Regions from separate parts of the Homo sapiens genome. Here region 2 is linked to region 1. The links come from fine-mapping of genetic effects on gene expression. Tissue or cell type: whole blood. Region 1 holds a variant in brackets; the other region holds the start of a gene. All regions are shown on one strand. Distances are from middle to middle.

The links. PIP is the estimated chance that this variant, and not a neighbour inherited with it, causes the effect.
Region 2: it holds the start of NKX6-3, and the variant in region 1 is fine-mapped to the expression of NKX6-3 in whole blood (TOPMed, PIP above 0.99).

What each region holds. Positions count from the first base shown.
Region 1 is chr8:41,584,943-41,587,624 of GRCh38, forward strand. The region is part of intron 1 of GPAT4 (glycerol-3-phosphate acyltransferase 4); the gene reads left to right. Among named protein-coding and RNA genes, the nearest start is that of GPAT4-AS1, 7.9 kb to the left of the region's middle. RefSeq lists enhancers at 1,870-2,009, 2,120-2,219. The variant C/G (reference allele first, on the strand shown) is at 1,563.
Region 2 is chr8:41,649,554-41,652,235 of GRCh38, forward strand. NKX6-3 (NK6 homeobox 3) reads right to left here and starts at 1,264. Exons shown (of 3, transcript NM_001364841.2): 1 at 558-1,264. The coding sequence starts at 939.

The DNA of each region.
Region 1 (2,682 bases):
TTGGATCCTGGCTTTGTCTTGGGTAATTTATTTTATCCAGGATTGATGCCAGCTATGTGTGTTCTGGGTTTTTAGCACTTCAGGTTCATGTCAACTGAGTCGCTCTGAGAGCTGCCCTGTTTGGAAACATGCAGTTTCCCCACTAAGCAACAGCTTCCTATTCAAGCAAATTTCTTACACTCTACCAGTCCCGATACACTCGACGTTAAATTCAGCGTAGCACACATTTCCTCATGCCTGTGTGTGCGTGTTTGTTTACATTACAGTTGGGGCATTTGGTGGGCCTATGTATGTTCTGACAGTAAACTAGGAGAAATGGATGCTTTTTTCTGAATTGTAATCCACCCTAAAGCAAGTGAGGAGTCAGCCTGGGAAGCAAGAAGTGCACTCGACTGGACATCAGATGGGCGTGTTAGTCCTGCCTCTGTTACCAGCCATTCCGTAACTTGTCCCCATCATCAAACCCTTCCGAGGCTCGGTTATTTGAGCCATAAAATGAAGACATTGGGCTAGAATTCTGAAAGATTAACTACTAAAGTTGTGGTTTGTCATCATTTTATTATTATTGCCTCCAGCTTTATGGTGATGATTAGTAGTAGAAGCTTCTATTTATAGAGGATTTTGTGCCAAGCACTACACTGATAGCTTGATAGGCATCATGTTCAGTCTTGACAACAATACCACAGGATATGTATTATTCCCAATTTACAGATGAGAAAACTGAAGCATGGAATGTGACTTTTTTGAGGTCAGACAGCCAGAAGGTAGGGGAGGCTGGTTTTGAATGTAGCTTGTCTGATTCCCTGTATGTTTGGCCATCATGCTTTACTGCTTCCCTGACATTCTGCAATTTTAAATAAAGACGTAAGGACAAAAAACTTGTTTCAGGAAGGATTTTTAAAAGACATCCAGTCTAATCACCATAATGTATCTGCCACTCTGCAGAATGCAGTTGTAGGTGAAGGTCTCCCTATGCAGCCTATTCTTTTTGAACAACTTAATCTTAGATTCTTTTAAAAATAGCTTTATTGAGATACAATTCACCTAATGAAAGTATGTTCACAGATGTGTATAGTCATCAACAGAGTCAGTTTTAGAACATTTTTGTCACCTCAGAAAGAAACGTTTTAGCTATCACTCTTGTATCTCCCCACTCTCGCCAGCTCTAAAGTAACCAACAATCTACTTTCTGTCTGTGTAGATTTGCCTATTTTGTATAAGTGGAATCAATATGTGGTCTTTTCAATGGGTTTCATTCACTTAGTATGATGTTTTGAAGATTCATCCATGTTATAGCGTGTATCATTTCTTCATTTTTATGGCCAAAGGTTCCATTGTATGGATACACCACATTTTGTTTATCCAGTCATCAGTTGATGGACATTTTGGTTGTTTCCGTCTTTTGGCTGTTCTGAATAATGCCATTGTAAGCATTCATGTGCAATTTTTTTGGTGTAGACAGTTTGTCTTTCTCTTGGGTATGTACTTAGGAGTAGAATTGCGAGGTACATGGTAACTTTGTTTAACCATTCTCCGAGCTGCACTGTCTTACATTCCCACCA[C/G]CAAAGTGTGAGGGTTGGATTCTTAGTATTGAGCTAGAATTTGCACCCCATACCTGCCAACCATAGCACCAGTTCCCTTGCTTCATGTGTCCCAAGCAAATCCGCTTTTTCTAGGTGACAGCCAGCCCGGTCTGACCTGAGTGCTCTCCAGTACTGAAGGGCTTCCACCAGCTTTCATGCCCTGGGATGTCGTTCTAGAGCCTCACCACCTCTCTTATGAATGTGATCCCCCTCCTTTTTTTAGAGAACTAGATGCCTTTTACGTATGGATAATTTGTGCTCAGAGATGGTTGTCTTCTCAGTTTCAGTTGTCCTTTCTCAGTTAACTGGTAAGAACCCTTAACCCAGTAGTCTCAACTGGCTCCACATCAGAATCGCTCGAGTGTGTTAAGAACAAATCCAGATTGTACCTGCAGAGATTCTAATTTATTTCATCTGGGCTGAGGCCCAGAGATGCAAATAAGCATCCTGGGTGGAGAACCAGTGCAGCCTTTAGTGGCCAGGGGATGGTTCTGGCTGGGTCTCTGAGGGCCCACGTGGCTCATGCCCCTGCCATCTGTGCATGGATACCAACTGTCCTGATTCAGAATTACTGTGAGAGTCTCAGTTTTTACTAATGCATTTACACAGAGTGCCATTTTGAAGCCTTAAGCATTTATGTTCCTGTTTTCTGGAGAGTCTCATTTGCCCCCAGTATGCTCTGCAGACACTGGCTGTGGCCATGTTTGCCTCCCTGTCAGGCCATGTGAACTTTCTGAATGAGAAAGCATGCTCCAGCCATTTCAGAGGCATATAAACACCTTTAGGCAAAAGTGGTAGTTGAAAACCTCATTAGTATAATGTCATTACTTCTTGGGAAATACATTCAAATTCCCCTTCTCCTTCCTAGTGACAGGGGCTTAGATGAATAGTATTCCATTATATCCTCTATTGGGAGACGTTGATGTTTGTTTTGATATTACAGACAATGCCGCAGTCAGTATCCCAGCACATATTATCACTTTGCTCATGCTTTAAAATACAGGGTTTATACACTTCTGCACTACTGACATTTGGGGCTGGACAGTTCCTCATTGTGTGGGAGCTGTCCTGTGCATTGTAAGATGTGCAGCATCATCTC
Region 2 (2,682 bases), 65 kb after region 1:
CCGAGACAGGCTACTTGGTGTGGCTGCTGTTGCTAGAAACCCGAGGATGTGGTGGGCAACAGCCCCCTGGCTCAAAGGCTGGACCCGGATGGGGTCAGGGTGCGTTCTGCACCCTTGAGTGATGCCAGGGCTCTCTGGGAAGGTGAGCTAGGACATTTTCCTCACGGGGGTAGCATTTGCCTGCTTTGGGTGAAGAAGTGGTTGCATGGGCCCTGGGCTGCAGAAGCCAGCTGGGCTGCCTACTGGACCTCGTGCAGGGCAGGCGTGGGCTGTGGGGCCTTCTCTACATCTGGAACTGCCGGGGGCCCTAGGAGGGCAGCTGAGGTGGCTGGCATGTGAGGGGGGTGGCTCAGACACCTGTGTCCAAGCACTGCTGGATGGGAAGGAGGAGAGGGTGGAACTCAGCCTGCACTGAGCTGAGGCTACGAGTCCAGGGGTTAATGGCGACTGGGGGAGAGGGCGGAGGTGCAGGGTGCCCGGGAGGAGGCCCCTCCTCGTCCTCTGCCCCCCGGGGCCTGGCGGGTGCCGGGAGGTGGCTGGGGAGGACCCGTACTCACTGTTGCTGCACTGCCGCCCGCCTCGCCAGTCTTGGCCCGTGTCCGCCCAGCAGTTCCGGGTCCGGGTCGGGTACTCGTTCCCAGCCTTGGAAAAATTCCCTACCTGGGGGCTGTAGTAGACCCCCTGCGAGCTGAGCCCCCCAAAGCCTGCCACGTGGGGGTAGCCGGAGAGGAGGCTGTTGTTCGGCGCAGCCACGGGCCTGCTCAGGATGTCCGTGATCCCGTGGGGGGTTCCGGCGGCCAGCTGGGGGCCCAGCCCTGGGGGGCTGAGCTTGTAGAAGGAGTTCTGCACAGAGTACTGGCACACCGGGGCCTTCATCTCCGGAAACTGAGCCAGCGGCGTGTTGTTCAGCAGGAACGTCCCCTGCAGGTTGGACTCCATGATCTCCCAGTCAGGACAGGGAAGGCTTCTCCAGGCCCCTAAAACCCAAGAGCCCACTCTCTAGCCCCAAATCTCATGGCAGGCCTGGAGGCTTAGGACCGTCTCCGAGCTCCTGACTGCCTCCCACCTAAGGCATGGGCCAGGCCCTGGCCCAGGAACCGGCACCCGATCAGCTGCTCGGAAGTCAGGTGCTCGGGGCAGGTGGGAGGCCTCCCCAGGGCTCCTGGCCTCTCTCCTTGCCCTGGCCGGACAGGGTGGCCCCCTAAGCCTCAGCTCAGACCCCCTTTCTGCCTCTGAGTCGGGGGACCCTCCATGAGAAGTTTTAAGTTCAGAGAAGGAACATTTCCCTGATAAAGATACGGCCCATTAGAATACAGGCCGGAGACTGGCTGAGCCGCCGGAGCCGCGCCGCCATTGGTCGGGGCGCACACGGGCCTCACATTGGCTTTTCCTAGACAAATTGCACTTTGAAAGATTGACTGTACAATCAGCCAGGGTGTGTGTGTGTGTGTGTGCGCGCGCGCGCGCGCGCGCGCGTGTGTGTGTGTGTGTATGCGCGCGCGCGCGAGAGAGAGACAGAGAATTAGCTCTAGAAGCCCTACTCATCGCCGGAGGGTCCATTTGCTCCCCGCAAGTCTAGCATCTAGGAAAAGGTGAGCGTCTGGGGGCCCCTGGAGGCTCCCAAGGCAATTGGAAGTCACTGTTCCTACAGCTGCTCCCCTAGGGAAGAGGAGGCTGGACTCAGAGGCCACTGTCCGGAGCTGCGCCGGCCCCTTTATGTGCACATGTCCAAGCTCCACAGGAGAACGCAGCCGCTTCCTTCCCTTCCGCATGCGGGGATGGGGTAAGTGGCATAAGATGGGGGTAAGTGCGGGGATGGGGTAAGAGGCTGAGTGGCATTGCTTTCTGGGGGATGCAAGTCCCTGTGGCTGGCTTGAGAGCCTAGGGTGGGAGCCTGCTGGGAAGAGGGCAGCGCGGGGCGTAGGCAGCCCTGACAGTGCCGGGGTGTGAGTCCTCCAACTGCAGGAGGCTGAAGAGAGGGCCGCCCTGCACGCATGTTCTTGCCTCCACCTCTGGTCGGCCTTCCGTGACCTCCCTATCAGAATCTCTTCCTCATTTGTGCCTCTGCTGGAGCAATGGCCATGCTCTGTCTGGCGTGGTGCCCGGGTTTGAAATCCCTGATGGCTGAGAGGGTGGTGGAGCCCCGTGCCGGGCACTCCGTCGGTGCTCAGTTAGTAGTTGATGCAGTGGACTGGGCTGAATCACAGAACATGCATATGCTTTTTTTTTTCTCGAATAAATTTTTACAACATACAAGGCTCTATTGGGGGAAGCTCTCATTTTACAAACAGGAAAACCAAGGTATAGAGGAATTGGAGCCCACTTTCCAGGTACATGGGTGATTTCTGGACCAGGCAGGATTCTTCCCTGCAGTTTTTCTCTAAAACTGGAAACTAGCATGCCACTGGCCTGAACATGTAAAATGCTAGGAAAGACTGTGACTGCCAGACAGATGGACTTCTGCTCCTCTCTGTGCCTGGTGGCCCCAGAGCCCTTCCTGACCAGGCGTGGGCTCTGCAGGGCTTGCTCTCTCACTCCCCAGAGGCCGCCCTGGTAGGTGGGAGACTAGAGGCACTGCTTCACTGAGCTTCTCCTGGGTTTCCAGGCCGTCTTGGTTTTCAGTGGGGAGCAGAGGACCCAAGGCTCAGGGCAGGATTCCTTCTCATGCAGAAGTTGACCCTC